Linked DNA regions of Homo sapiens. The protein of the gene in region 4 interacts with the protein of the main gene of each other region in a pairwise test. Each region holds a gene or a part of one and is shown on either strand. Other genes may lie near its edges. The genes, in order: SLC10A6, MARCHF8, BNIP3L and CYB5B.

What was found.
Region 1: the proteins of CYB5B (region 4) and SLC10A6 interact in binary tests that used the Homo sapiens proteins (3 or more experiments, as listed by UniProt).
Region 2: the proteins of CYB5B (region 4) and MARCHF8 interact in binary tests that used the Homo sapiens proteins (3 or more experiments, as listed by UniProt).
Region 3: the proteins of CYB5B (region 4) and BNIP3L interact in binary tests that used the Homo sapiens proteins (3 or more experiments, as listed by UniProt).

The regions. Positions count from the first base shown.
Region 1 is NC_000004.12:86,831,904-86,839,689, reverse strand, and holds part of SLC10A6 (sodium-dependent organic anion transporter), read left to right. Parts: intron 1-6,265; coding exon 6,266-6,384; intron 6,385-7,786. UniProt on the Homo sapiens protein: Transports sulfoconjugated steroid hormones from the extracellular compartment into the cytosol in a sodium-dependent manner without hydrolysis.
Region 2 is NC_000010.11:45,525,213-45,532,998, reverse strand, and holds part of MARCHF8 (E3 ubiquitin-protein ligase MARCHF8), read left to right. Parts: intron 1-7,786. UniProt on the Homo sapiens protein: E3 ubiquitin-protein ligase that plays several important roles in innate immunity and adaptive immunity.
Region 3 is NC_000008.11:26,378,229-26,386,639, forward strand, and holds the start of BNIP3L (BCL2/adenovirus E1B 19 kDa protein-interacting protein 3-like), read left to right. Parts: upstream 1-4,825; 5' UTR 4,826-4,902; coding exon 4,903-5,002; intron 5,003-8,411.
Region 4 is NC_000016.10:69,419,240-69,427,974, forward strand, and holds the start of CYB5B (cytochrome b5 type B), read left to right. Parts: upstream 1-5,379; 5' UTR 5,380-5,444; coding exon 5,445-5,618; intron 5,619-8,735. UniProt on the Homo sapiens protein: Cytochrome b5 is a membrane-bound hemoprotein functioning as an electron carrier for several membrane-bound oxygenases.

The DNA.
Region 1 (7,786 bases), on a different chromosome or scaffold from region 4:
ATGAGAGTGTTTATTATAACATTATTTATAATGGCAAAAAACTAAAAGCAACTGACCTATGGTTAATGAAGTGATTGAAGAAATTATGGCATATTTAGATTATGGCATATTTCGCAGTTCTTTAAAAGAATAAGTTTAAATGTATTGGTCTGAGAGGATGTCTGTGATAGATGAAGTGGGAAAAAAAGCAAACAAGTTGCAGAGTAAGGTATATTATAAGGTTCCTTTTTTTATTTTTAGAGACAGGGCCTCCTTCTGTCCCCAAAGCTGGAGTGTTGTGGTGTGAGCATAGCTCACTGCAGCCTCAAACTCCTGAGCTCAAGCCATCCTCCTGCCTCAGCCTCCCGAGTAGCTGGGACTACAGGTGTGTACCACCACATTCAGCTAATTTTTGTACTTTTTTTTTTTTTTTTTTTGTAGAGACCAGGGTCTCTCTATGTTGCTCAGGCTGTTGTTAAACTCCTGGTCTTAAGCAATCCTCCCAATTCAGCCTCCCAAATTGCTGGAATTACAGGCATGAGGCACTGCACCTGGTCTGATTCCTTTAAAAAGAAAAAATAATGAAAGAAAAAAATCCTATTGATTTAACAAACAATCATGAAATAAATGGACTGCTTAAAAGAAAAATAAAAGAGTAGAAGGATGTACACAAATACTTGCAAGTTATCTAAGTTTGGATTTCTGAAAGGAGCACCAATCAGCTAAATATTTGCTTCTTAAAATTTTACTTGCTTTTGTCTGGGAAGAGCATAATTTTTTTTTTTTTTTTTTTTTTTTGAGACACTGTCACCCAGGCTGGAGTGCAATGGCATGATCTCGGCTCACTGCAACCTCCATCTCCCAGGCTCAAGCAATTCTCCTGCCTCAGCCTCCCGAGTAGCTGGGATTACAGGCGTGTGCCACCATGCCCGGCTAATTTTTGTATTTTTTTTAGAGATGGGGTTTCACCATGTTGGCCAAGCTGGTCTCGAACTCCTGACCTCAGGTAATCTGCACGCCTTGGCCTCCCAAAGTGCTGGGATTACAGGCATGAGCCACCATGCCCTGCTGGGAGAGCATAATTTTATAGAAAGTCTCTTTTTCTGGATTGCTATGGGGCTGTTTACCATTTGAACTAAGTATAAAGGGGTCATTTCAGTAAGATTTTTACCAATGTTCACCTGGAGATACGTGACATATGACGGAGACAGAGAGAATATTTCCATAGCACCAGTGTGTTGACATTGGTTCATTCTTTGATTCATACATTTATTCAGTAAGTATTTAACGAGCTCTTCCAATATGCTGCAGCGTGAGACTATGCCAGGTCTCCTAGAGATGGAGAGGAAAATAGGACCTGGCTGTCATGCCACTCACTCTGGCACAGATGGACAGGTACATAAGTACTTGTGTAGGGTACAGCATGTGTATAATTCATGAGCCAATGTCAATAAAACCATGTCCAGAGGGCCATGGATTCAGAATCCTAGAAGCAGGATCGCTAATTTTCCTAGATATTGCCAGACACCCTCTGTGGTGTACCATTTTTACCAGCAATGAGTGAGAGCACAGAGGGAATCTTTTTAGTATCATTGAAGTAAAACAGATGCTGCTTTGTCAAGAGTATAAACATTCTTCTGGCAGAAAATGTTAAAGTAGTCATAGACGTATTATTTTATAGACAGGGTAATTGGATGGAAGCAATGGTGATATATATTAGGAGGAAGAGTGACAGATGACTTGTAGACCCAATAAAGTGCTGAAGGACCTTCTGTCTATGCAGAAGACCTTGACGTATGAAGGGCCTCCTCCCTCTCCTTTGTAGAGCAGGAGGGCAGTCTGCTTCTCAGTCTGTCAGTCATTTGTGCCTTGAGCACAGAATGAGCACAGTGTCTATAAACAGTTTGTACATGCTTAAACAGATTGTGTAATTTTTTCCAGCAAATTGAAAGATAAAATATTTGACTGGTCTGATGGGTATCTTCTTTCCATTTATTTTCTTTCCCCTAATTTTACTAATGCATTCTTTCACTGGTTCTATCACTCAGGTAGGTACAAAATACAGCCTTAACTTGCGATTTGGGAGTGAGACTGAGATGGAAAGAATAGATTTGGGATGGAAGGCACCAAAAAGTGGGGTAAGGTTGAATATTTCTTCAGTTCTCATCCTCCCTGATTTTTATTGGCTTTTAGCCTTCATTTGGGAGCTTTCTTTTCTTAGCTTTCATGAAATATAACCTCCCAGCTCTCCACTGACTTCTTTTTTAAATTTTATTTTTAATTGACAAGTTAAATTATGTATATTTATGGTGTACAACATGATGTTTTGCTTACTTGCTTCTCAAATCCCAGCCTGCCTGCCTGCCTTCCTTCCTTCCTTCCTTCCTTCCTTCCTTCCTTCCTTCCTTCCTTCCTTCCTTTCTTTTTCTTTCTTTCTTTCTTTCTTTCTTTCTTTCTTTCTTTCTTTCTTTCTTTCTTTCTTTCTCTCTCTCTCTCTCTCTCTCTCTCTACATGCACCATGGGCTCTTCTTCCTCTCCCTGGTTTAGAGCAAAGGAGGCTTTACAATATATAAAATATTAACTATCAGTTAATGTAACTAAGTGCTTTTCCCTAAATAAATTTAGACCAAAAATATATATGGAAAATACAAAAACACAGTATATTATGGCCGGGCGTGGTGGCTCATGCACTTTAGGAGGCCGAGGCGGGTGGATCACCTGAGGTTAGGAGTTCGAGACAGCCTGGCCAACATGGTGAAATCCCATCTCTACTAAAAATACAAAAATTACCTGGGTGTGGTGGTGGGCATCTGTAATCCCAGCTACTCAGGAGGCTGAGGCAGGAGAATCACTTGAACCCAGGAGGTGGAGGTTGCAGTGAGCCGAGATTGCGCCACTGCACTCCAGCCTGGGCGACAGAGTGGGACTCCATTTCAAAAAACAAAACAAAACAAAACCCCAAAAAATCTGCAACAAATTACAAATGTGTGAAGCAGTAACTTAGTTCATATAATGTAATAACAATATAGTAATTGTCTTAGTCCATTTTGTGCTGCTGTACAGGATACCTGAGACTGGTTAATGTATAGAGAAGAGAAATTATTCCCTTACATTCTGGAGGCTGGGAAGTCTAAGATGAAGGTGCTGGCATCTATTGTCTGGTGAGGTCCTTCTTGCTCCTCACGTGGTGGAAGAGAGAAGGGCAAAAAGGAACAAACTTCCTTGGTGGAGTCCTCTTAAAATAGCATTAATTCATTCATGAAGGTGGATTCATTGTGACCTAAACACCTCCCAGAAAGCTCCACCTCTCAATACTGTTGTCTTAGGGATTTGATTTCCAACCTATGAATTTTGGAGGACACATTCAGACCATAGCAGTAATCACGATACACAGTTTTTGAGGACTTCAAACCAAGTACTCTTCCCCCTCTGTCACAGACATTATGTACTTAAAAGTTCTTAAGAACCATTGCGCTTAAAATGTGTTAGCCTTTTGACTTAGAAACAATTAACCTCAATAATAACAGAGATAAACAAACCAGTTTTCCAGTAGAAATCATTCTGGATTTGTTGAACAAAGACCACAACTTCCTTCTGATGGTCTCAGTTGTTTTCCTGGTAAAGCTATGTAGCATGGCTGTTGGTTTTGGTTTGGTTCGTCCGGCTCACAAACCCACATTTCACTTTCCAAGGTGGCCAGAGACAACCCCAGTAATGACACAGATAAACAGACTGATTGTCTTTAGAAATCTTTCCAGGTTTGTTCACCAAAGACTGGATGTCCCACTATCACCTTACTTAACACAACCCCTCTAACTGATGCTAAGTGACTCAGCTTTTTTGTATATCACACCATCATTTTGAAGCCTAGAAATCTTACTTTGTACTCTAACTCATCACTCTACTTCAATCTCAAATCTCAGTCCCTTCCTTTTCTTTTCTTTTCTTTCTCTCTCTCTCTCTCTTTCTTTCTTTCTTTCTTCTCCTTTTCTTTCTTTTCTTCTTTTCTTGTGTCTTTTCGTCTTTCTGTCTTTCTTTTTTTTTGAGATGGAGTTTCACTTTGTTGCCCAGGCTGGAGTGCAGTGGCATGATCGTGGCTCACTGCAACCTCCGCCTCCTGGGTCCAAGTGATTCTCCTGCCTTAGCCTACCAAGTAGCTGGGATTACAGGCACCTGCCACCACACCCAGCTAATTTTTGTATTGTTAGTAGAGACAGGGTTTCACCATGTTGGCCAGGCTGGTCTCGAACTTCTGACCTCAGGTCATCTGCCCGCCTTGGCCTCCCAAAGTGCTGGGATTACAGGCATGAGCCACCATGCTTGGCCCAATCACAGTTTCTAATCATAGGATCACACGATATCAGGATTGGAACAGAATTCTTAATTCAGTCTAGCATCTCACATCAGTTCCCTTTCTCTGTGGTTCTGTACCTTCCCTTGCCCTAACCAACTTGCTCTGTCTGCAGGTCAGCGACTGTGGGGGTCACTGCCCTATCCAATGGGGAGCTTATGGCATGTGGTGTTTGCGTGACTTCTTCCTGACAGATATTTATTAACACTTCATACTGGGCAGGCGTTCAGTCAGCTTTGTGGCATTCTAACTTGCTGATGTGGTTTGGGTGTTTGTCCTCTCCACATCTCATGTTGAAATGTGATTCCAGTATTGGAGGTGGGGCCTGGTGGGAGGCTATTGGATCATGGGGTGGATCTCTCATGAATGGTTAATGCCATCTCCTTGGTGATAAGTGAGTTCTTGCTTAGTTAGTTCACATGAGATCTGGTTGTTTAAAAGTCTGGGACCTCCCCTTTCTCACTCTCCCTTGCTCCCTCTCTGGCCATGTGAGATACCTGCTCCCCCTTCCCCTTTGCCTTCTACCATGATTGCGAACTTCCTGAGGTCCTTACCAGGAGCACATGCTGGAACCATGCTTGTACAGCCTGCAGAACTATGAATCTCCTTTATAAATTACCCAGCCTCAGGTATTTCTTTATGGCCATGCAAACAGCCTAATACACTTCCAATCCCCTTGGTACCAGAACTAGATATCACAAGAAAAGAAAACTGCAGATCAATAGTTCTTATGAATATACATGCAAAAATTTTCAATAAAAATACTATCACACTGAATCTAGCAACATAAAGGATTATACACCATGACCAAATATGATTTATTTCAAAATGCAAGGTTGATTCAATATACAGAAAAATCAATGTGATATACTATATTAATAGAATAAGGACATAAAAAGAATGAAGCTGTGATATATGTTAAAACATGGATAAACCTTGTCTTAGCCCATGTGAGTTGCCATGAAGGAATACCTGAGGGTAGGTAATTTCTAAATAAAACAGGTTTATTTGGCTCGAGGGTCTGCAGGCTGTACACAAGAAGCAAAGTGCCAGCATCTGCATCTGGTGAGGGCCTCATGAAGACCCCACCCATGGTGGAAGGGGAAGAGGAGCAGGCATCACATGGTAAGAGAGGGGAGGGAGGTGTCAGACTCTTTTTAACAACTAGAGCTCATAAGAACTGAGTGAGAACTCAGTGAATCCCACGAGAATGGCACCAGCCTGTTCATGAGGGATCTGCCCCTGTGACCGAAATATTTCCCACTTGCCCCCGCCTCCAACGTTGGGAATCAAATTTCAACATGAGAGTTGGAGAGGACAAACAGCCAAACTATTATCAAACGTCGAAAATGTTATGCTAAGGGAAAGAAGCTAGACACAGAAAAAAGGCTGCATGTATGATTCTGTTGATATGAAATGTCCAGAACAGGTAATCCTATAAAGACGGAAAGTAGATTTGTGCTTGCTAAGGGCTAGGGGAAGGAGGGATTGGGGAGTGACTGCTAATGGGGATGGGGTTTCTTTCTGGGGTGATGAAACTATCCTGGAAATGGTGCTATTATTGCATAATGTTGTGACTATACTAAAAACTGCTGAATTGTATAATTTAAAATGATGAATTTTATGGCTTGTGGATTATACTTCAATAAAAAAGAACTAGATAAGAAAATAATTCTATAGTGCCTAGCAGAATTTTAAGGCAAGTAGATAGTAAAATAAATATGAGGTAATTGATGGATGACAAGAACTACTGGAAATCTCTTTGTAGACCAGAAATATAGCCATCGTTTGTTAAACAACGGGAGAGAAATGAGCTCCAAGGAGCTTAGTCCATGTAATCTCTAGGAAATTGTGTCCTAGGAGTTGCTTTTGGTAAAGACTAAATTCTTCATGTCCAATGCTCCCTCCTAAGCATTGTATTAATTTTACTTTCAGCATCAGTATGACAACCTGTTCCACCGTGGCCGCCCTGGGAATGATGCCACTCTGCATTTATCTCTACACCTGGTCCTGGAGTCTTCAGCAGAATCTCACCATTCCTTATCAGAACATAGGTCTGTATGGGCCTGGGAAATGGAGGACTAACAGTAATGGTGATGATACTAATAATAGCTGTTCTTAATTATATAACTCTTTATGCAGGGATTTTTTTGGTAGTACTTAATTTAATCCCTTAAAGAACCCTACAGTATAGATTCTGTTACCAGTTCAGTCTCCTAGGTCTTCAGGCTTCAAGAGGTTTAGTAACTTGATCAAGATTATGCAGCTGGTAAGTACGGAACTGGAGTTCTAACCCGGGAATCTGACTACAAAGTGCAAACTTTCATCCCTATAAGAGTGCATTTTTGAAAAAAAAAGAAAGCCAGATAATTTACTTTGAAAAAGCAGGAATCAAACCCTTATGTAATTAGACTATAAAGCAATTGGACTCTTTATACTCCAAGGTTTAACTGGATCTAGTGGCTCTAATTAGACCTTCCTGTGACTTCACCTTTCACATTGCCTGCGAACCTTGACTTTTTCTTGGAGGTTGAATGTAAATAATTCTTACTGATTATGAAAACTCATCTACATGTCACAGTCTCACCCATATCTCTTTCATTATCTCCTCTTCTGAATATTATTTCTCATGAAAGTCTGCCATTTTCCTAAAGATCTCTGTGGGTTTAGCAAGCTTAGAAGAGAAATGTGGTGAAATGATCTGCCTTTTCTAGTGTGGTCAGTTTTTGAAAAAGTGATAGGCACTATGTTTTTTTGTTTTTTTTTTTTGAGACAGAGTTTTGCTCTGTCACTCAGGCTGGAGTGCAGTCGTGCAATCTCGGCTCACTGCAACTTCTGCCTTCTCCTGCCTCAGCCTTCCGAGTAGCTGGTACTACAGGTGCAGGCCACCACACCCGGCTAATTTTTTTGGTATTTTAGGAGAGACAGGGTTTCACCGTGTTGCCCAGGCTGGTCTCAAACTCCTGAGCTCAGGCAGTCCACCCACCTTGGCCTCCCAAAGTGCTAGGATTACAGGTGTAAGCCACCGTGCCTGGCCAACACTATGATTCTTAAGACTCTCAGTGTCAATCTGGTGTCTCAGGTAAACACCTTGAAGGCTTACAACCCATGGCCCATAGTTCAAAACCATGAATGAACCCACTTCCTCACAATAGCGGGAGCCCACTGAATCTGTAAAATTTGAGGGAAACCTTAATTTAGAAACCATGATTTTATGTGCAACTTTTTTTCTGATCAGTAAGTTATTTAATATATTCTGCTTTGATAATATGTTCTGAAAGGCACTCACAAGACGCAAAATGTTATGAGCAGCTTATATAACTTTGGAGCCAATATTGTAGGCATTTATCCAGACTTGGGAAGTGGCATGGGAAAATGTCAGTTTAAAGCTGTTACCTAATTGAAATAGAAGTTGTTGGGAAGTACTGTGCAGTCAGGGTGAGAGGGAAAACCCTC
Region 2 (7,786 bases), on a different chromosome or scaffold from region 4:
ACAAGCACACAAATAGTTGTACTCAGAAGGAATTGTCTTTTTGTAGATTTCTAGGTTTTCAGATTTTGGTGTAAACTACTGTTTATAAATGGTTATAAATGACTTATCTTCATTGGTTAAATCTACCTGATTATTTTTGGTTAATCACTGTGACTAAGTTCTTTGGATTCTCAGAACATGATGCTGCTAGTTTCCTATTCATCGTAGTGTGAAATTTGGACACCAGATGGCTGGAATTTCTTAATATGTGTCTTAGTCTGCCCTAGCTGCTGTAACAAAATGCCATAGCCTGGGTGGTTTAAATAACAAGCATTTATTTCTCACAGTTCTGGAGGCTGGAAATCTGAGATCAGGGTGCCAGCATGGTTGGATTCTGGTGAGGTCTTACTTCCTGACTTATAAACAGCTGCCTTCTTGCTGTGTCCTCACATGGCATAGAGGGAGGAAGGAAGCAAGCTGTCATGTGGCTGTTCATATAGAAGGACTGATCCCATGGAGAGGGTTCCACCCCTAGGACCTAATTGTCTCCCCAAGGCCCCACCTCCAAATACCATTACATTATGGATTAGAGTTCTGGCATAAAAGTTTTGTGGGAAACATAAACATTTAGTCCATAATAGTGTGTACATGGGGAAGCTATACAAACTTGTTTGGAATAGAAAAAGGAAAATGTCCAACAGTTAGGCCAGGAAGGGAGATTCTTTTTGATATACACCCTCACTGCAGGTTTACTGTAGGTGGTTATTTAATAAAGCCTTATTGAATTTATCTATTTGATGGGATTTTTAAGGTCTAAATAAATAGCATTAATCAATTATTTGTAGAATGGGGATTTTTATTGGTATTGGGAAGAAAGAGAAACCATTCTGTCTTACCTTAGTGTGGGGATGGTTTGAACACCCAGTGGCAGCCTGACAGTTCAGGGTGTCGTGGAGCCCAGATGAGGTGGCAGTAGTGGAAGAGCAGTTGAACCAGGAACTTGCAGGGCCCCGTGAGAGCTTCAGCAGCAATGGCACAGGATGAAAATAGTGGTTGTGTTTCTAGGGTCTCAATTGTGGTATCAGGTTTGATTTGAAAGGTAAATTTTTGTCCAGTGGAGCCCATTTTTATTTATGCAGTTTTTCCTGGCACAGGTTCAACCCAAAATCTTTTGCTATGATTTCTGATCCTCCTGTGCTTGGGAGATATTATTCCTACTGAGTCCCATAAGAAGAGTGAACCCTTGCATTTTACCTAGACTCAAATAATCCACCTGTTTGCTTAGTCTAATCTGTTAACACACCCTCGCTGAAGCCCATAACTTCTACAGAGGGTTAATGACTTTTATACAGTACTCAATACAGTTGATGAATGAATGAATGAGTGAATATGAATTCAGTTTCAGTGATATGGGTCATGTCACTGTGGAGATGATCTTTTATTTCAAATACAGTATGAGAACCTTACAATAGTATACTTTCATTTCTTTCCTTCTGGCCTTTTCATTATTGTCTTTTAATAAATTTTAAACCCTAGAATATATTTAAAAAAATACTTTCTCTTTAAATACTTTTCTTTTAAATAATAATAAAGATCTGTTTACTCAGATAATTACCATTTCTGGTGTATTTCCATCTATCATTTTTCTTTTGTCTAAAGGACTTTAGCATTTCTTATAATGTGAGTTGGCTGACAATGACTTCTTTCAGCTTTATTTAAAAAATATTTTTTATTTGTTTCTTGTATTCTGAAGTTGTGCTTGTGGATCAGTGGGTTTACAATTTTCATAGAATTTGGAGCTTTTTGGCTATTCTTCAGATACTTTTTCTGTCCCCCCATTCTTTCTTTGGGGACTCCAGTATACACATTGACTGGCTTAAAGTTGTCCACTGCTGCACTTTTAATTTTTTAAGGTTATTTTTTCTTTCTGCATTTTATTTTGGATATTCCAATTACTTTGTTTATAATTTCATTAATATTTTCTTTTTCAATATCTAATCTGCCAGTAATTCCGTCTAGTGTGTTTTTCATCTCAGACATGTTTTATCACTAGACATTTGTTTTGGATCTTTTTTATATCTTCCATGTCTCTATGCAACTTTTTTAGTATATGAAATAACAGCTATAATGACAGTTTTAGTCCTCTTTTCTGTCATTGTTGGCATGTGTGACTATTCTGAGTTTGCTTTTCTCCCTCACTTCGGTCAGTTTTATTTTCATTTTTGTTATTATTTTTTACTTATTTTTGAGTACAGATCTTGCTCTGTTGCCCAGGCTAGCATACAGTGGCGTGATCACAGCATACCGCAGCCACGAACTCCTGGGCTCAAATGATCCTCCTGCCTCAACCTCCCAAGTAGCTGGCACTATAGACCATGCCTGGATAAGTTTTTCTTTCATTTTGTAGAGTCGGGGTCTTGCTATTGCCCAGGCTGGTCTCAAACTCCTGGGCTTAAGCAATCCTCCCATCTTGGCCTCCCAAATTGCTGGGACTGCAAGTGTGAGCCACTGCACCTGGCCCAGTTTCATTTTTAAGTAAAAGTTTATTTCAGACTAGTTTTAGATTTACAGAAAAATTGTTAAGCTAGGATGGAGTATTTTCATATACCTGACACCCAGTTTCTCATATTGTTATTATTTATAGATTTAGTACAAGTGCAGTGTTGTTACACCACCTGAATAGTGCACATAAGCACCCATGAGGTAATTTCTCATCCCTCACCCACTCCCATCCTCCCACCTTTCTGAGTCTCCAATGTTATTATTCCACTCTCTATGCCCCTGTGTACATATTTTTCAGCTCCCACCTGTAAGTGAGAATATGTGATATTTGACTTGCTCTTTCTGAGTTATTTCACTTAAGATAGTTACCTCCAGTTCTATCCATGTTGCTACAAAAAAACATGAATTCATTCTTTTTTTATAGCTGAGTAGTATTCCATGATGTGGATTACTTTATCCAATCATCCGTTGATGGGCACTTAGATTGATTTTATGTCTTTGCTATTGTGAGTAGTCCTGCAATAAATATTTGAGTACAGGTATCTTTTTGATATAATGATTTCTTTCCCTTTGCGTAGATCCCCAGTAGTGGGATCACTGGATCAAATGGTATTTCTATTAGTTCTTTGAGAAGTCTCCATATTGTTTTCCATAGCAGCTGTACTAGTTTACACTCCCAACAACAGTCTGTGAGCATTCCCTTTTATCTGCATCCTTGCCAACATCTGTTATTGATTTTTTTGACACCTGAGTAATAGCCATTCTGACTGGTGTGAAATGGTATTTCATCGCTTTTATTTGCATTTCTAACTTTTTAAATGTTTCTTGGCCATTTGTATGTCATCTTTTGCAAAATATGTGTTCATGCCCTTTGCCCATTTTTTAAAAAGGTTATTTTTTTCTTGTTGAGTTCTTTGTAGAGTCTACAAATTAGCTTTTTGTAAGATGCATAGTCTGCAGATATTTTCTCCTGTTCTGTAGATTGTCTGTTTTCTCTGTTGATTATTTATTTGCTGTGTAGAAGCTTTTTATTTTAATTAAGTCCCATTTGTCTATTTTCATTTTTGTAGCTTTCCTTTTGAGGTCCTAGGCATGAATTCTTTGCCTTAGGCCAATGTCCAGAAGAGTTTTTCCTAGGTTTTCTTCTAGAATCTTTATAGTTTCAGATCTTTCAGGTCTTTATACTTTCAGGTCTTTAATCCATCTTAAGTTGATTTTTGTATATGGTGAGAGATATGGGTCCAGTGTCATTCTACTGTATATGGTTACCCAATTCTCCCAAGTATCATGTATAGAATAGGGTGTTCTTCCACTAGTGTATGTTTTTGTTGACTTTGAAGAAGATCATTTGCCTGTAGGCATGTGTCTTTAATTTGGGTTCTGTAAGCTGTTTCATTGACCTGTGTGTCTCTTTTTATAATAGTTTTGGTTGTTATAGCCTTATAGTACAATTTGAAGTCAAGTAATTTGATGCCTCAAGTATTGTTCTTTTTGCTTACCATTGCTTTGGCCATTCAGGCTCTTTTCTGGTTCCTTGGGTATTTTAGGATTGTTTTTTCTAATATTGTGAAAAACAATGTTAGTATTTTTATAGGAATTGCATCTGCAGATTTCTTTGAGTAGTATGGTCATTTTAATGATACTGATTCTTCTAACCCATGATCATGTTTGTGTCATATGTGATTTCTTTCGTCAGCGTTTTGTAGTTTTTCTTGTAGAGATCTTTCACATCCTTGGTTGAGTGTATTTCTGAGTATTTTATTATTTTTTTGTAGCTATTGTAAATGGGATTGACTTCTTGGTTTGGTTCTTGATTTGGTTCTCAGCTTGATTATATCATTGTTGTATAGAAATGCTACTGATTCCTCCTCACAACAAAAAATACAAAAATTAGCTGGGTGTGGTGGCACGTGCCTGTAAGTCCCAGCGACTTGGGATGCTGAGGTGGGAGGATCACTTGAGCCCAGGAGGTCGAGGCTGCGCTAAGCTATGACTGCGCCACTGTGCTCCAGCCTGGGTAACAGAGTGAGACCGTTTCAAAAACAAACAAAGAAACAAACCCCAACTAAACAAAAGAAATACTACTGATTTTGTAGGTCGATTTTGTATCCTGAAACTCTACTGAATTAATTTATCAAATTTACGAGTGTTTTGGAGGAGTCTTAGGGTTTTCCAGGTATAAAATTATATCAGCAAACAGAGATAGTTTAACTTCCTCTTTTACAATTTAGATGTCTTTTCTTTCTTTCTATTGCATTACTGCTCTGGCCCGATAGGACTTTTAGTACTGTGTTGAGTAGGAGTGGTAAGAGTGGGGATCCTTGTCTTCTTCCATTTCTTAAGGGGAATGCTTTCAACCTTTCCCCATTCAGTATGATGTTGGCTGTGGGATTCTTGTATATGGGTTTTATTATTTTGAGGTATGTTCCTACTACACCAAGTTGTTGAGTGGTTTTTATCATGAAAGAATGCTGAATTTTATCAAATGCTTTTTCTGTATCTATCGAGATAATATGGTTTTTGTTTTTAATCCTGTTTATGTGGCAGATCACATTTATTGATTTTTGTATGTTAAACCCTACTTGTATCCCTGGAATATAACCCACTTGATTGTGGTGTACCATGTTTTTTGATGTGCTGTTGGATTTGGTTTGCTAGTATTTTCTTGAGCGTTTTTGCATCTGTGTTCATTAGGGGTACTGATTGATTCTGTTTCTGTTTTTGTGTGTCCTTGCTTGGATTTGGTGTTAGGGTGATACTGGCTTCAGTTAGAGAGGATTTTCTTCAATTTGGGGGAACAGTGTTGTCAATAGGATTGGTACCTATTCTTCTATGTCTGGTAGAATTTGGCTGTGAATTCATCTGCTTCTGGGGTTTTTTGTTGTTGGGAGATTTTTTTTTATTTTTATTACTGGTTAAGTCTTACTGGTTATTGGTCTCTTCAGGCTTTCTCTTTCTTAGTTCATTCTTGAGAGGTTGTGTGTCTTTAGGAATTTACCTGTTTCATCTAGGTTTTCTAGTTCGTTAGTGTAGAGATGTTCATGGTAGACTCTGATGATCTTTTGTATTTCTGTGGTATCATTTGTAGTGTCTTTTTCATTTCTGATTGTGCTTATTTGAATTTTCTTTCTTCTTGGTTAATGTAGCTAGTAGGCTGTCAATTTTGTTTATCTTTTCAGTGAAGCAACTTTTTGTTTCTTTATCTTTTGGGTTTTTATGATCTGGATTTCATTTAGTTCTGCTCTTCATCATTTCTTTTCTTCTGGGTTTGGTTTGTTCTTGTTTTTCTAGTTCCTTGAGGTACTATGTCAGGTTAACTTGTGGTCTTTCTATTTTTTTCGATTTAGGCATTTAACGCTATAAACTTTTCTTTCTTGAATCCATTTACAGTCAACACTATAAGCTTTTGCTGTATTCCAGAGGTTTTGGTATGTTGTGTCTCTACTTTTGTTTAAAAAATTTTTAAACTTCCATCTTAATTTCATCACTGACCCAAAAATCATTCAAGAGCAGGTTAATTTCCATGTATTTGTATAGATTTGAGAGTCCTTCTTGGAATTGACTTTAGGTTTTTTCCACTGTAGTCTGAGAAGACAACTTGAAATGATTTCAGTTTTTTAAAAATTTATTGAGACTTGCTTCATTCCTTAAGATAAGGTCTGTCTTGGAAAATGTTCCACATGCTAATAAGAAGAATGTATATTCTGTGATTGTTGGGTAGCTTGTTATATAAACATCTGTTAGGTCTATTTGTTCTACAGTCCAATTTAAATCCAGTGGGGTTTTTTTTTTCTTTTTTTTTCTGTCTCAGTGGTCTGTCTAGTGCTGTCAGTGGGGTGTTGAAGTCCCCTCTTGTGCTATAAAGGAATGCCCAAGGCTGGGTAATTTATAAATAAGAGATTTTATTTGGCTCACTATTCTGCAGACTGTACAAGAAGCACAGTGGTTGTGTAAAAGTGCCTGGCCTCCTCTCTTCAGCCTGGCTTGTTGGCTGGTAGCAGCAGCTGCTCAGGGCTCGGAAGCCTGTGTACTCCCATGTGAGTTTGAGCAATGCCTCTGTCAATCTCCAGGCAACTCACTCTATTAGGCTGGAGACCTGCGAGGGTCAAGGGGGTCTCCCACAGCTAGCGTTGCAAAAGTCCATGGTGGGAATGTGGAGCCCTGGGAGTCTCTCATCTACCCTTTCCCAGCATCTAGAAGCTTCTTTCATCTCTCAGCAATCCTGGCTGAGCACGTGCCTTGCTTCCTTCTCCTTTGTGATCAGTGATTCCTGTTGCTTTTCAGTTGAATTCCAGTGTTCTGTTTTAGATGACCTATTTGAAGGGTGAATATCTACTCGCCGTTTTGGAGCTTTCCATGGAAGAGGCATGTACTAGCTGCATCTAGTTAGCCATCTTGAACCAAGCTTCCAGTTTCTCATATTATTAACATCTTAAAATAGTGTGCTGCATTCATCATAGTTAGTGAACTAATATGAATACATTATAGTTTTAAAGTCCATGCTTTATTCAGATTTCCCTACTTTTTAACTAATGTCCTTTTTGTGTTCCAGGATCTCATCTCTAGGATGTAGCATATTACATTTTGTTGTTGTATCTCCTTAGGCTCCTCTTGGCTATGACAGTTTCTCAGACTTCCCTTGTTTTAGATTACCTTGACAGTTTTGAAGAATACTGATCAGGTATTTTGTGGAATGTCCTTCTATGGGAATTGTCTGATATTTTTCTCATGACTAGACTAGGGTTATAGGTTTTGGGATGGAAGTCCACAGATACAATGTACCAGTTCATCACAACAGATCGAGTATACTATCAACATGATTTATGACTGATTTTCTTGACCACCTGGCTGATATAGTGACTATCAGGTCTCTCCACTATAAAGTTACTCTTTTTCTCCCCTTTTGTACTTCATTCTTTGGAAGGAAGTCACTAGGCATAGCCCACTTTAAAGAATGGGGAGTTGTGCTCCCCCTCCTTGAAGGTGGAGTCTTTACATGAATTATCTGGAATTCTTCTACATGTCTGGAACCCAAATTGCAAGATTGTCCAAAAAATACATTTTTCAATTTTCTGCCCTGTCCTCCTTGATAAAGGGATCCTGAAAGAAATGATCTGTATCCCAGGATTCCTGAAAGGTGATAAGTAAGAAGGTAATTCAATGATCAACTTATATTTAAAGTAAGCTACACAGAAAATAAAAGTGGTATTTTATATATTTATAAACAGTCCTAGTTTTGGCCCTGTTGTCCTGCTACTGAGGTCAAAAGGAGGATTTTACCATGCAGCATCAGGATGATGGTCAG
Region 3 (8,411 bases), on a different chromosome or scaffold from region 4:
ACAGGAAAACTCTGTCTCTACAAAAAACACAAAAAAATAGCTGGACATGATTGCAGGCACCTGTAGTTCCACCTACTGGGAAAGCTGAGGTGGGATGATCACTTGAGCCCGGGAGGCTGAGGCTGCAGTGAGCTGTGATTGTACCACTGCACTCCAGCCTGGGTGATAGCATGAGACCTTGTCTCAAAAAAATAAAAATAAAATAGCACATGATTAATAAAAAACTTTTTTTTGAAAGTTTAAAACCTTTTGAAAGGAGCACCTAAAAGGAAAATAGAACAAAGTGGGATCTCGTAGTCCTGACTGGGAAAACAATTCTATAAATATGTCAATAATCCCCTCAATTTCTTTTTTATCATTTGGCATTAGAAACCTTTTATTGAGACAAACGGTGGGCTGAAAATAATACAGGGTGAAGGAAGGTTGAGGAAACCAGTATGAAGGCATCTCAAATGATGAACTAAATACATTCCAAAGGTACTATTTACACTTAAGGCAATTTTAAAAGTGAGGTCTTAACCAAAAAGCCTTTACATGGCATTAAAAAAAAAAAGCGGGGGTCATTTAAATCTTTTGGATTGACTAAAAGAGCTAAATTATGTACCCAAAATCTGTACAGCAGGGGCCTGTTTTCAGCAGGTAAGCCTATTATATGCAAGAAAGAACCTCTTACTCTTGTTACAATTGTCCTGTTTTGCTTTGTTTTACAGGAATATATAACCCCCATCCCCACAGAGTTAGTCCATAAGGCCTCAGTGTCTGCATAGAAATGTGGACCTACCTCTACTAGAGAACTATTTACACTGCACTGTAAATACACGTCTGTGTCCACCCCCACAACTAAGCTGTCAATGCCTTGAGTGAAGGGGTAGTTACAACTCAGTCATTTTGTATCTACAGTGACAATTAATAGGCACTCAATACTTTTTTTTGCATGAATGATAAATGATATTACACTACCACCACTATTTACATTAACATTTCCCATCATTAGCTGTCCCCAAAATAAAAACACCAAATTGCTGCCACATTTTCAGCAGTTTTCATAATATAGTGCTTCTGGACTTTTTAATGTAAACAAACATGCTTGATTTACCAATTTTCAGAGTAATGACACAAACTTAGCATTCTTCTTGGAATGGAAAACTTTCTGGGAAGTTACTTCATTCTTTTTCTCTTTTCAAAAGGCATCTCGCAGCGCCAACTGTTTTTCTCAGAAGGAACGCTTATTTTCTGACCAGACATTCTGGCTATACCACATCATCATAAAGTTCTTCTGTTTTTTCTTCTCTTTACTTTTTGAACTGGAAAATGGATTCACTTTGGTTTTCTTCCTCACAAATTCTTTTCGGTCTGTCTTTCCAGCCATTGCAGTTGCTAGTCTTGTCTCTTTGTCAGATTTTGGCTTTTTATGAAGGCGTTCAATGTCCGGAAGAGAAAGTAATTCACCCCTCGGCTCTTCATCACTGTCGATTTCAATATATTTCCTCTTCTGGGATTTCCCGGGGACAGCGTCAAGTTCTTTTCTCATTTGCGCCATGCGGATTTTCTGGAAGTCTTCCTAACTTAAAACTCGACTGGTGCTGACGGCTGCAGTTTTGGCTTTCTGCTCCTCCATGGGCATGGTGTTCAGCTTCTTGGAAATTTCTTGCTGTTCTTCATTGGAAGAGTGTTGCACATCAACCCATTCGCCATCGGCATCCTCCTCCTCACTGAGACTGGTACTTTCCCATCCATCTTCATCATTTTCAGCACTCTCCTCTTTCTCAACTTCCAGAACTTCTGCTCCTGGAATGTAACCTTTAGCATCTAATTCTCCATATTCTTGTACTCTTGCTTCTATGGAGGCTTCTGTAGGCTTACCCCAGAATTTCTTCTGCAGCATCTGAGGATTCAGTGTTCGGAAGAGCCGAATCAAAGTTCTAGCAGACATCATTACATTATTATCCTTGTGTGTTTTATACTGAGCCAGGTCTTGGAGAAGCTTTTCAGTCATGGCCAGAGGACACTGAGCTGTTGTCTCTTTTACAGCATTGATTCCTATTGTCATGGCTTCTCCAGAGTTCTTGTCGTTAACAAAATTGTTGGCCACAGTCATAAGCAATGATTGAATAATCGCTGGGTGTACTAGGTGATGAGATGCTTGTGCAGCAAACAGAAGGTTCTTTGTTACTTCTCTTTGGTGGGGCTGCAGAAACCTTCGCAAAAAGTGATAGAAATTGAAGAGGAAGAGCTTATGAATTCCCACCAATCTGAGATGAGGTTCATGAGCATCATCTTCACTTCCAACCTCTCCTTACAGCACTCAAGCTGCTTTAGTAGTTTTTCTGCAAAATCTTGGGGATCATGAATCAAGTGAACGGCTAAAAAGTTAAACACCTCTGGTTTTTTCTTCTTCTTTTGTTTCTTGAGCACTTTCATTGCCTTTTCCAACTTTTTCTTGTTTTGGGAACTTTGTTCCCTGTAGCATACTGTGCTAGCAGGTCTCTTGCTGTTGGTCCGTCATCCTCAGATTCGGAGTCACTGGCCTGTTTTTCATCTTCATCTTTTCCAAGAAAGAATGTCAAAGCAGCAACTAATATCTTGGTGACCTAAGAGAAACATGCAGTTGTGATAACATTGACAGTTTTGGTATCATTCCAGATGTTCCTTCTGTAGAGTTCAATCATAACATCTAAAGACATCTTGGCTGCAGTTGCATTGCTATCTCTCAACATGGTATACATGAAATTTTACAATACTACATCCACTTTATTCTTGTGTTTTGCATTTATATTCTTGATATCAGTCACGATATATGTGTATGAAGTCTTTTGCAGAAGCTTATCATGGCAACAGAGAAGTTCAAAGAAGAGTTCTAGCAGGCTTGATGGATTGATGAGATTCTTATTTCTCAGCAAGATCAAAGCTTTGCAAAATGTCATTCGAAGATCTGGATCCAATACAGTATGATTACAGGACAGAAGATCTTTCACCACTTGAGGAAAATTACTTAGATACCCTGGGTAGCAGTAACTAATCTATAACAAAGCAAAGGCTCTTCTGAAGTTTCTCTCTTTCTCTCCTATTATTCAGATGCACATATTTAGGACGTTCTGTGCCATAAACACCACCAGCTCTGCTAGTTCTTTACCGGGTTTATATGGTTGCAATTTGAAAATCTCCACATTGGATGTGTAGTGATTATACTGCTGTAGAAACTCCTAGATGGAGGGTGGTGGGTCTCGCTTCATCAGATTCTGTAACTGCAGTCAGGTTGCTGGGCAGCTTGTTGTTGTTTCTGCTGGACATTCTGGCTGAAGACTGGCTTCGCGGCGAGCAGTTTTAATAAAACTCAGATGGCCAGCAGCCGCCAATCCCTACCAGCTGCGGCTTGAACTCCTGCTTCCGGGTATGACCGGAAACAGCACTCAATCTATTAATAGAGTTCATTTCTGACCAAAATCTTAAAAGAATTTGCAAAGGGATTTGACAAATCAATCCTTAAAAAAAACCTTTTAGCATGGACTTTTTCAAATATATTAAAAAATTAGAGGAATACTTTAATGTATTACATAGCTTCAATAATTACCAACACAAGGTCAATCTTGGACAAGTCCATTTTTAAGTTCATCTGAAGAGTAACTAGCCATTAACATCTGAAAAAGACAAAGGAAGAGAAACTTTAATAGTTATCTAACAGAGGTATTGCAGATAGCCCTGAAACAGACTCACATTTTTGTGGTCATTCAGAGAGTGACAAAGGTGCAATTTCAAATCAGTGTAGAAAGGATGGCTTAAAATTAATATTATTAGGTCAATGGGCTACAAAATTGGGAAGAATTGAAGTTAAATAATTTACAGCATATGGAAAATAAATTTCAGATGGATTAGAGCTCTAAATGTAAAGTTAAGCCTATAAGAAAATTAGAAAAAGTTATAAGGGAATTATAGATTAGTAATCTTGGTGTGACTGTCTCCCCAAGCCATGTAAGAATGATAAATCTGATTACATGAAAACCTTAAGCTTCTACAGAGTGAAAAAAACAAATTAAAAGACAAGTTAGAGACTGCGAGAAACATATGTCACTCATAAATCAGACCAAGGAGACTGGACGAAGACATGGAGATGTGAAGTAGGAGGTGTGCTCAGGAACATAGTTTAATGTCATCCACGTACAGGATAAACGGCTTCCCACGTCATGTCCCAGAAATCGATTAGTCGATGGGATTTGGGTGAGTACTTTCTTCTCTCTGTTTTCCTGAATTTTTCTTTTTTCTTTCTTCCCCTTTCTTCTTTCTCTTTTTTTCAGAATGATGGTGTGTTTGTAATCGACATTTTAAAAATTCTGTAACAATTAAATTTGGGGGCGGCCTTCCCTTGTTTCCCGTATGGAGTGTTGATGTTTCAGCAGCTTTATTTGGAGTTTACACGTGGAGGCACCTGGGTTTGGGGATTCCTTTGTGTCCCCAAGACACCTATTGCAGAAGTGAGTCCTAAGAGGTAGAAAACAGATGCGTGCGCAGGGCTGGGTGAAGCACTGTGGAGCCTGTGTGAGAGGAGGCACGGGCGCGAACACAGGAGCGCACTTCCTCATTCCGTTTCTCCTCATCCTCTCTCCCACTGCCACTGGCATCACTCATCCCATCCGGTCATCCCAAGTCACACGCAAGAGTTCGTTCCCGGCGCGCGCGTCAGCCTGACTCGAGCGTCTCCACGTCCGGGGCCCGCAGGGGAGCGCCCCTGCCCCGTCCGGTCGCTTGTTGTGTTGTCATCACGTGGCCTGGGCGGGCCCTGACGTCAGGGGCAGGGGAGGGACGGCGCAGGCGCAGAAAAGGGGGCGGCGGACTCGGCTTGTTGTGTTGCTGCCTGAGTGCCGGAGACGGTCCTGCTGCTGCCGCAGTCCTGCCAGCTGTCCGACAATGTCGTCCCACCTAGTCGAGCCGCCGCCGCCCCTGCACAACAACAACAACAACTGCGAGGAAAATGAGCAGTCTCTGCCCCCGCCGGCCGGCCTCAACAGTGAGTGCGGGGCCGAGGCTCTGTGAAGGGGATGGGGGAGGAGGAGCAGCCCCGGCCGCCGCCACCGGCGCGGCGCGGGAGGCGGGAGGAGAAGGCAGCTCATTGGCTCAGGCATGGGATGTCCAGGTGACTGACAGCTCCCGTCCCCTGTCAAGAGGAGGGGCGCCTGCCTTGCTCCGGGCCTCTCTGTTGCCTCCTGGGGTCTTGGGCCCGGGGCCGTTTGGGCTCGCGGTCCGGGAGCGGCGCGGGTAGCGCGGATCCCCCTGGTGCGGGGGGTGGTCCCCAGCAGCGGAGCCGGGCGGGGCGGGGCGGGGGCGGGCCTGGGGGGCGGGGAGGCCGGGTGGGCGGAGCGGGCCGCGGAGGGGACGTGGGCCGGGATGGGGACGTGCGGCGGGGACGCCGGGGGATGGACGCGCGGGAGCGGGGCGGGGCGGGCGGCTGCCGCGGGACGTGTCGGGGATCAGGTGTGCGGGGCTCGCGGGCGGGCAGCGTCTGGCGGGCGCGGGAGCCCCCCAGCGAGCATTCCTTTGTTGCCACACGTTTGTCAGGAAAATTCATTTGCTCGTCTAGGGTTGGCTTCAGTCACGTGTGGGGTGAGAGGCTGTGCCTTGCTTCTCCTTTTTCCTTTTTTATTTTTTTATTAGATTTCTCGAAGTTGCCCAAGTGATTTTTTTTTTTTTAAAGCGATGGGTTGTGCGCCCAGTAAAGCTGAGAGCAGCCTCCTGAACCACCCAAGATTGCACACGTCAGGGAGTCTGGGGCCATGCATTTAAAGAAACGGAATTAAAAACGCACTCGGGCAGTTGAAAGTTAACGGACGAGGCTGATAGACAACCCAGGCCAGGGTCTTTTCATAACATTCCGCTGCCCAGACATCTTGTCCTCAGATTGTTCCTAGTCGTGAGAACCGGGAGCCTTCTTGGAAGGGTTCTTGCCTAACCTTTCTTTAATTCAACTCTTGGGAAAGAGGTAATGGGAGCAGTGAGCATATGGCCAGATGAAGTCTTTTCAAAACCACTTGGATGCTTAAAGGTCATGCAGTATCTTTCGTAAGAGGGAGGTGCTTCCAGTGTGGCCTGAAGATTATTTTAGGGAAGAGAGTTTCAGCCCTCACCAGGTAGCGATGGAGTTTGGAGATTTTAAGATGGATGCTGCTGCTCCAGGTTTTGATGGGTTAATTCCCAAAACCTTTAAGTGTCATATATTCCAGAATGTAAGATGGTTATATTATTTCCCACAGTAAATTAGGATGAATGTATGAGTCTTTAAACGTTACTTGTATCACATATTCCTATGCAATTTTAAGTTATTTGCCCATGTTTAGCATACTGTCTTAGATTTTAGAATGGGAAGAAACTTCAGAGCTAGCTAACTGCCTCCTGTTGTTTGCCTGTAGAGAAACAGGTCTAGAGTAAATGGCCTTGTCCAAGTTCACAACCGGCTGGGAGCAAAGCAGAGGTTCTCATGTTCAGCCTGTCTACTGCTCTTTTGAGGACATTTTTTTTTTTTTTTTTTTTTTTTTGAGGTAGAGTCTCGCTCTGTCTACAACCTCCGCCTCCCAGGTTCAAGCGATTCTTCTGCCTCAGCCTCCCGAGTAGCTGGGACTACAGGTGCCTGCCACCCGCCCAGCTAATTTTTGTATTTTTAGTAGAGACGAAGTTTCGCCATGTAGCTGGGATTACAGGCGCCCGACACCAAGCTAGGCTAATTTTTGTATTTTCAGTAGAGAGGGGGTTGTTGGTCTCTCACCATGTTGGCCAGGCTGGTCTCAAACTCCTGACCTCACGTCATCCGCCCGCCTGGGCCTCCCAAAGTGCTGGGATTACAGGCTTGAGCCATCGCACCGGCTTCTTTTCAGTGGTGCAGAACCTCCTGCTGGTGTGTGTGTCTTATTTTGTCAGTGTGTTATTCTACCTAATTGACAAAGGTGGCCAACCTTTCTGTTTCTTTTTAGTATTGTTTCTTAATTGTACAGTTTTCTTATGAGTGAAGATACTTGGTAGGTGTACGTGATTTCACTGAAAGCAAAGGGATTTTCATCTTCCTTTGACCCTTTAACAACAACAACAAAAAGGGCTGAGCCAGGCAGGGCACGATGGCTCACACCTGTCATCCTAGCACTTTGGGAGGCCAAAGCGAGTGGATCACTTGAGGTCAGGAGTTCGAGACCAGCCTGGCCAACATGGTGAGAGAACAACCCCCTCTCTACTGAAAATACAAAAATTAGCCTGGCTTGGTGTTGGGCGCCTGTAATCCCAGCTATTCAGGCGGCTGAGGCAGGAGAATCGCTTGAATCCGGGAGGCAGAGGTTGCAGTGAGCCGAGATCACGCCACTGCACTCCAGCCTGGGTGACAGAGCAAGACTCTGTCTCAAAAAAAAAAAGGGGCGAGGGCGGGGGCTGAGCCATATGTCATTGTTTATCTTGGTGTCTGACAGACCTATGAGGAGTTTGATGTCTTTGGCCAGTCGGTTCCTGCTTGGCTGACATCAGCTCTTACAGAGGTGGAAGTACACTCAGCCTGCATGGGACATCAAAATGTTGCTTTGGGACATCTGCTAGATAGAAAGTATTTTGTGTGGGATAGGGTGAGCTTTCTGAAAAGCTTTTAGATATTGCCATATTTAATTACTCCCTTCTTGCCTCTCACTCTGTTCGTTTTTTTAGCTCATTACACAACACTGTACTGAACAAAACAAGAAGCCTCATTGAATTCCTTGAAGTGATTTTTGGGCAATGGGCAAAACAACTTATTCAGGCATCTAGTACTATCCAAATTGCTGATAAGTCGAAGGACTTTGTTGGGTAAAGTTGCACAACTGAAAAACAGGAGAAGAAATGTACAGATTATCTTGCGTTTGGGATTTTATCTTTGGTTCAGGGGTCAAAGCAGGGTTTCAATAGCAAATTACTGAAGTATTTGAATAGTGAAGTATTTTTGTGATTTTTTTTTAACTTTACCGCTGTGGAGAGACTGTTCACTTTCATTAAAAATTACAGGGCAAATACCCAAACTCCTTCCAAGTCAAAAGGATGTTGTCCAGTTTGTTTTATTGTTAAGAAAACTATCAACTTCCTTAAGAATGTTTGAATAAGATTCAATAGGGCCGAATAAGGAAAATCAAAGTAGTAGTGTAAATCGTAGTATAATTCTTGTTGTTGAGAAGTATAGCCTTTTTTTTCTTTTCAAATTTTCTTGTTCTTTTTTGTTTTTTGTTTTGTTGAGACAGGGTCTTGCTTTGTCACCCAAACTGGAGTGCAGTGGTACAGTCATAGCTCATGGCAGCTTAGACCTCCTGGGCTCAAGTGATCCTCCTGCCTCAGCCTCCCAAGTAGCTAGGACTGCAGGTGTGCACCCCCACATCCAGCTAATTATTTTATTTCTTGTAGAGTTCGAGTTTCACTTTGTC
Region 4 (8,735 bases):
TGAGGTGGAAGGATTGCTTGCAAGCCCGGGAGGTTGAGACTGCAGTGAGCTGTGATCGTGCCACTGCACTTCAGCCTGGGCCACAGAGCAAAACCCTGTCTCAACAACAACAACAACAACCAAAAAAAAAAAAAAAAAAAAAGAAAAGAAAAGAAAAGAAAAAATATTCAACAGGATTCAACACCCTTTCTTAATAAAAACAAAATAAAAATAAAACAAACTCAGGAAACTAGATCCTCAAGATCCTCAAGCTGATAAAAGACATCTACTGAAAAATTATATTAAATTGTGAAAGACTGAATGCTTTCCTCCTAAGATTAGGAACAAGACAGGGATGCTAACTTCACCATTTCTATTCAACACTGTACTGAAAGTCCTAGCCAGTGCAACAAGGCAAGGAAAAAAGAGGCATACAGATTGGGAAGAAAGGTGGAAGCAAAGCTGTCTCTATTAGCAGACGACATATTTATTACATAGATAATTCTAAGAAATCCATAAAATAATTACAGGAACTATAAGTGAATTTGGCAAGGTATAAGATAGTAAGTCAATGTACAAAATCAATTATATTTATCTAGACTGGCAGCAAACAATTGGAAAATGAAATAATTTCATTTATAGGGGCATTAAAAAACGAAACATTTAGAAATAAATTTAATAAAAGATGCTAAAGATGTCTACATTGAAAACTACAAATTAAACTGAAGTAAATGGTTCATGAAATGTAAGGTTTTTAAGGTGTCTTTTTTCTGTAAATTCATCTATAAGCACTTTTGTAAAATTAAGAAGCTGATTTTTTTTTTTTTCTTCTAGAAACAGGGTCTCACTCTGCCACCCGGGCTGCAGTGCAGTGGCACAATCATAGCTCACTGTAGCCTCCAACTCCTGGGTTCAAGCAATCCTCCTGCCTCAGCCTCCCAGGCAGCTGAGACTATAGGTGCCCACCACCATGCCCAGCTAATTTTTACATTTTTTTAAAGAGATGAGGTCTTGCAGGCCAGGCACAGTGGCTCACGCTTGTAATCTCAGCATTTTGGAAGGCCGAGGTAGGCGGATCTCCTGAGGTCAGGAGTCCAAGACCAGCCTGGCCAACATGGTGAAACCCTGTCTCTACTAAAAATACAAAGAAATTAGCTGGGCATGGTCGTGGGCACCTGTAATCCCAGCTACTCAGGAGGCTGAGTCAGGAGAATTGCTTGAACCCGGGAGGCGGAGGTTGTACTGAGCCTAGATCATGCCACTGCACTCCAGCCTGGGTGACAGAGTGAGACTCGTCTCAAAAAAAAAGAGATGAGGTCTTGCTATGTTGTCGAGGTTGGTCTTGAACTCCTGAGCTCAAGCAATCCTTGTGCCTCAGCCTCCAAAGTGCTGGGATTACAGGAATGAGCCACAGTGCCCAGCAAAAAATAATAACTTTTTTTGTAATAATTTTAGATTTACAGAAAAGTTGCAAAAATAATACAATGAGTTTCTGTATACTCACTCAATTTTCCATAAAGATAGCATTTTACATTACCATAATATGTTTGTCAAAAGTAAGAAATCAACACTGGCACCTTACTGTTTTATTTGGATTTCACTAATTCTTCCCCAGTGCCCTTTTTCTGTTCTAGGATCCAGTCCAGGATACTATACTGCGTTTAATTGTCATGTCTCCTTAGTTTACTTGAGTCTGTGACAATTTCTCAATCTTTCCTTTTTTTTTTTTTTTTTTTATGAGCTTGTCAGTTTTGAGGAGTACTGGTCAGGCATTATGTAGAATGTCCCTCAGTTTGGGTTTACCTGATGTTTTTCCCATGCTTGGACTATGGTTATGGATTTTGTGGAAGAATGCCACAGTGGCAACATGCCCTTTTCATCACATCACACCGGGGGTACATGCTGTCAACATGATTTATTATGGAGATGTTTTAATTTGATCACTTGGTCAACAAGCTGATTTTAAATTGTGTGTGGGGCCGGGCATGGTGGCTCATGCCTGTAATCCCAGCACTTTGGGAGGCCGAGGTGGGCGGATCACCTGAGGTCCGGAGTTTGAGACCAGCCTGGCCAACATGGTGAAACCCCCTCTCTACTAAAAATATGAAAATTAGCCAAGTGTGGTGGTGGGGGCCTGTAATCCCAGCTACTCTGAACCCGGGAGGTGTAGGTTGCAGTGAGCTGAGATTGTGCCATTGCACTCCATCCAGTCTGGGTGATGAGAGTGAAAAAAAAAAATGTATGTGGAAATACAAAGGATCTAGAATAGCAAAAATAATTTTCAAAAGTTAAGAGCAAAGCTATAAGACTTATATTACCTGATTTAGTGCCTTACAATAATCAAGACTGTGGAATTGGCACAAGGATAAACAAATAAGTCATCGGAACAGAGTAGAAATTTCAGAAGGAGAACCACACTTATATGATCAATCAATTTTCGACAGATACAGGAAAACAATTCAAGGGGGAATTGTGTTTTCATCAAATGGTGCAGGAACAAGTGGGTATCCACATGGAAAAAAAGAGGCTAAGAAACCTGCCCAAGGTCACCAAGTTTGTGAGTGGCAGGGACAGGTATTCCAAGCCAGACTTTCTGGCTAACATGTGCTATCAATTGTAAATATAAATTTATAACCAAAACATTTAGGTCACAATAATTTTTCAGTGTAAAATTCAATTTGAGGCTATACTATTTAAAAATGTCAATGTCATGAAAGCAAAAGCAAAGTTAAGGAAATGTTCTAGATTAAAGGGGACTCAAGAGACTTAGCTAAGTGCAATACATGATCCTGAACTGGATCCTGGGTCATACAGGCACACTAAAATTTCACAAAGGACATGAATGCAATAATGGAAAATAATATGGAGAGTATGTTAGATAATAATTTTGTGTGAATGTTAAATTCTCTGAATTTGAAATTCATACTGCAGTTACGTGACAATATGTTCTTATTTTTAGAAGATACATGTAGAATTATTTGGCTGTAAAGGGTGGTGATATCTGAAATAGTTCAGCATTATTAACAACAATGATCAAAATAATATGGAAAAAATCAAATATTGAAAAATATTAACAGTTGGTAAACCTAAGCTAAAAGTATATGGTCATTCATTGTATTATTCTTGTAACTTACTTATTTGAAATTCTAAAAACATTTTCAAATATAATGTTACAGGTATATATCACTTAAGTGCTAGAATTTGTAATTTTTTTATTTTTTATTTTTATTTATTTATTTTTATTTTTTTGAAACAGGGTTTCGCTCTGTCATCCAGGCTGGAGCACAGTGGTGCGATCATACATCACTGCAGCCTCGACTTCCCAGGCTCAAGCCATCCCCAGATCTCAGCCTCTCAAATATCTGGGATTACAGTTGTGTGCCACCATGCGTAGATAATTTTTGTATTTTTTGAAGAGACAAGAGCCTCACTATGTTGCCCAGCCTGGTCTTGAACTCCTGGGCTCAAGTGATCTGTCCACCTCGGCCTCCCAAAGTGCTGGAATTACGGGGCTTGAGCCACCACATTCAGCCTGTAAATGTTTTTATTTCTTTCAGAGATTTTGTTTCTTATGTTATCTCTCTACTCCCAATGCCTATCATAAGACTTGTAACAGTAAATAGTAAATGTCTGGAATAAATGTAAATATTTGAATCTAGAGTTTGTGGAGGATCCTAAGAATCTTGTGAGATTGCTCTCATAGTGTCAGTCTAACTAGGGAGGTAAAATACGTAAAGTTAAAATTTACAGACGTAGCAGGCTTCCCAAAATAGTAATATGCTTTCTTAGGTACTACAAAGGGATGGAAGCACTGGAGCTCAAAACGGTAGGAGAAGTTTGAAAATAGAAGAAACTGAAGAGGAACTTGAAAAGCCGGTAGGCATTGAAAGGAAGAGGAGTCCTTGGGACAGCAATTGAGGGTAGAATGTGGAGTATCCCATGTTTCTACCACCATTCAGAATCCGATTTTCAAATGAATTCTGTGATGATCAGGATCAATCTGCACTATTTTAGTCTCTAAGTGATCTAAAATTAACTTGGTGGACCTGGGATGACCACGGATGTGGTTTTAAACCAGCAGGTTTCAGAGTCGGGGCGGGTGCAACAGGCTTATAAAGGGAATGGTGGAAAATATTATACGTTAGTGAAAGAGGTTGCGAATGGATTGTGGAGAGCCCTGAATGGTAGACTGCGAGAGTGACAGGATGAAAACGACGACATCATAGGAAGAGCAATCTGTCAGTTGTAATGGCAGTTAAAAAGTGGCGCACAACACTGTACCTTAACCAAACTTGGAATTCCAAAGTGCTGGGACCTCTAGCGGAGAGCAGTTGAGTTCAATTCTATTTTAGATCACGTAGAGACTAAAATAGTGCCGATTGATCCTGATCATCACAGAATTCGTTTGAAAATCGGATTCTGAATGATGGTAGAAACATAGGATACTCCACATTCTACCCCCAATTGCTGTCCGGGACAGCAATTGCCTTTCTAATCGACTGCCATGTTTAGCGATTACTATGCGCCAAGCGCTTTACAGGCACTCTCATTAAAATAGGCAAACCGGGCCAGGCGCGGTGGCTCACGCCTGTAATCCCAGCACTTTGGGAGGCCTACGCAGGCGGATCACCTGAGGTCAGGAGTTCGAGACCAGCCTGGCCAACATGGTGAAACCTACTCTCTACTAAAAATACAAAAATTAGCCGGGCGTGGTGGCGCATGCCTGTAGTTCCAGCTAGTCGAGAGGCTGAGGTAGGAGAATCGCTTGAACCTGGGAGGCGGAGTTTGCAGTAAGCCGAGATCGTGCCACTGCACTCTGGCCTAGGAGACAGAGCGAGAACTTGTCTCAAAAAAAAAAAAAAAAAAAAAAAAGGCAAACCCCTCTGTAAGAGAGTGCTTTATCAAGCCCATTTTACTGATGGGGAAATTGAGGAGAGACGGGATTGGCCAGATCACGACCTGGAGGCAGCAAAGATGTAAAATCAGGGTTGGGATACAGGCTGCGCCGGTAGTGTAGGGGATAGGAACTTTCTGAGACTCAGGAGAAAGCCACAGCGATGGGAAGGGAAGCAGAACACTGGAGACCCTAAAGGCCCACAGGCTGAGAGAAGTGGTACCTCTCCTGAAGTGACACCTGTCAGCACGCCTCTTTTGGGCGCCAGTCCAAAAATCGCGGTATCTGATTGGCGAGGTTGGAGGGGGCTGAACGACCCTAATTGGTTAGTTGGACCTCGAACCAGACTTTCATCTGGAGGATCGGGCGAGGAGTGGGCGGGATTTCGAACTGAGCCACTCCCTTCATTGGTGAAAAGAAAACGAACCAGGAACTATTCGGAAGTGTGATTGGCTGTTGCTAGGAACCGTCTCAAGGCCTTATGGGCCCTGGTTACGGAAGCCGAGGAAGGCTGAGCGCGGGCTCTCAAGGAAAGTAGTCGCGGAATCTCAGTTAGCGGTGGAGAGGCAGTATGTCCGGTTCAATGGCGACTGCGGAAGCTAGCGGCAGCGATGGGAAAGGGCAGGAAGTCGAGACCTCAGTCACCTATTACCGGTTGGAGGAGGTGGCAAAGCGCAACTCCTTGAAGGAACTGTGGCTTGTGATCCATGGGCGAGTCTACGATGTCACCCGCTTCCTCAACGAGGTGGGGCCTGGGAGGTGGGAGGCCTCTGAAGCTGCTGGGGCGAGGGGTGAAAAGGCTGTGTGGAGTGTATGTGGGAAGGAAGGGAGGCTTGGCTGGGGGCGATAAGGCGTAAGAAAGGGATCACGACCCTCAGAGGGAAACTGGGGTGGGATTGGGGGAGGGCTTTAGTTTGCATGCATTTCCAGTCAGCTCCGAGTTCTGGTGCCTTATGTAATATCATGTATTACTTATGTGTCGAGCATTTGCTGTGTGCTCAGCTAAACTCTAAGCCATCATTATCTTTATTTTACAGAAAGGGAAACTGAGGCTCACAGGTTGAGGACTCTCAGGGCCATAGAGTTAGCAGCTTAGATCCGTTGAACCTAGGTCTGAAGTGCACCCACATCTGTGCTTTTCCAGTGTGCCTTCTGAAGTAATACCGGTTTTGGTTTTCGTCTTCTAGAGTAGAAGCTGAGATTTCTCTCCACACGCTTCCCCATCTTGATTATGCCTCCACTGTTTTTTTTTCCCCCTAATCTGAGTTGACCTTGAGGCCAGAAACTCATAAATCAACCCTTTTTTTTTGTTTTTGACTCATGTTTTGTCATTTTTCTTAAATATTCAAGACTGTTTTATTTAATCTTCAAGTCTGTTGCATTACATCTCATTTTAAAAATTATTTTTGAGACCATGGTGCAACTAATTTTTTTTTTAAGGAAACAGGATAGACTTCTAAATATTTAAAACTTTATTGAGGTGTAATGTACATACGTAAATTGTGCCTATCTAAAATGTACATTTTGATGAGTTTTGAAAAATGTATTCATCCATGTTAAGACATAAACCATTTCCATCATTCTAAAAAGCTTCCTTTCCCTTTGCAGTCATTCTCTCCCAACCCCAGGCAACTAGTGATATGCAGCCGCTAAAGATTGGTTTGAAGCTTTGATTTTCGGTGTGTGTATGTTTGAAGCTTTGATTTTCGGTTTGTGTGTGATCATTTTATTTTGAGCAATAGATTAATGACTTGTGAAAGTTCACTTCTATTTCTCTGAAGCAAATATACTAGTGAAATATTTTTTCGATTAATTTGGGGCCTAAAAGAGAAATCTCTGCATCCTGACTTTTAATTCTAAAAACTTTTAAAATTTAAAAGTTTCCCCCAAAGAACATTATTTTTAATAAATCTTAATAGTGAACAATAATTTAACAAACTCAGAATTTACTAACTTCTTGCATTTGTATGGTGTATGGCATTTTATGCTTTTAAAAGTGCTTTCCGGTCGGGCGCGGTGGCTCACGCCTGTAATCCCAGCACTTTGAGAGGCCGAGACGGGCGGATCACGACGTCAGGAGATCGAGACCGTCCTGGCTAACACGGCGAAACCCCATCTCTACTAAAAATACAAAAAATTAGCCAGGCGTGATGGTGGGCGCCTGTAGTCCCAGCTGCTCGTGAGGCTGAGGCAGGAGAATGGCGTGAACCCGGGAGGTGGCACTTGCAGTGAGCCTAGATTGCGCCACTGCAGTCCAGCCTGGGGGACCCAGCGAGATTCCATCTCAAAAAAAAAAAAAAAAGTACTTTCCCGGCCAGGTGTGGTGGCTCACGCCTGTAATCCCAGCACTTTGGGAGGCTGAGGCGGGCGGATCACGAGATCAAGAGTTCCAGACCAGCCTGACCAACATGGTGAAACCCCGACTCTACTAAAAATACAAAAATTAGCTGGGCCTGGTGGTGGGCGCCTGTAATCCCAGCTACTCAGGAGGCTGAGGCAGGAGAATCACTTGAACCTGGGAGGCGGAGATTGCAGTGAGCCATGATTGCACCACTGCACTCCAGCCTGGGCGACAGAGCGAGACTCCAAAAAAAAAAAAAAAAAAGCTAGTGGAGGGTGACTTGGATAGTAGTGATTTTTTTTTTTTAACAGAGGTACAAGTAACAGGTTCAGAAAGATCCTGGTCATACAATCAATTAGTAGCAGATTTGACAGATCCCTTGATTTCTCTTGTCTGCATAGCATTACTTCAAAATTCTAGCCTTAGCTATGACTTCTGGTATTTGCTTCATAGTAAGTTTCATGCTAAAGCATGGTTCATAATGGGTAGAAAATCAAGTTTTTTGGCTGGGCGCAGTGACTCATGCCTGCAATCCCAGCACTTTTGGAGGCACAGGCGGGCAGATCACCTGAGTTCAGGAGTTCGAGACCAGTCTGGCCAACACGGCGAAACCTCGTCTCTACTAAAAATACAAAAATAAGCCAGGCTTGGTGGCACCTGTGATCTCAGCTACTTGGGAGGCTAAGGTAGGAGAATCGCTTAAACCTGGGAGGTGGAGGCTGCAGTGAGGTGAGATGGTGCTGCTGCACTCCAGCCTGGGTGACAGAGTGAGACTCCATCTCAAAAAAAGAAAAAAAAAATCATGTTTTTCATTTGTGGTTTTATTTCCCTCCATTTTTTTTCTTGATTGATTCAGAATAGATGGTGAGCTTGGAGGGAACACTCAGCCCTTACAGAGAGCATTAATTCAGTCTCAAGTAATAGTTGCTAACCTGTTTCTTTCTTTTTTTTTTTCCTCTGTGAAGATTCCAGAAGTAACTAACCTGTTTCAACCACATGCTGATATAGCCAGAGACATCACTAATGTGCCAAGGTTTCTCTTGGAGCTTGAGCTGCAGCTCTTTACCTGCAGTTTTGTTTTTTTTGTTTTGTTTTTTGAGACAAGGTCTTACTTTCACCCAGGCTGGAGTGCAGCTCACTGCAGCCTCAGTCTCCTGGGGTCAAGTGATCCTTCTATTTCAACCTCCCGAATAGCTGGGAAAAGGTGTGCACCACGACGCCTGGCTAATTTTTAAAATTTTTTGTAGAATTGGGGTCCCACTGGCTGGGTGTGGGCTCATACCTGTAATCCCAGCACTTTGCGAGGCGAAGGTGGGCAGATCATGAGGTAAGGAGTTCCAGACCAGCCTGACCAAAATGGTGAAACCTCGTCTCTACTAAAAATACAAAAAAATTAGCTGGGCGTGGTGGCACACACCCGTAATCCCAGCTACTCAGGAGGCTGAGGCAGGAGAATCGCTTGAACCCGGGAGGTGGAGGTTGCAGTGAGCCAAGATGGTGCCGTTGCACTCCAGCCTGGGC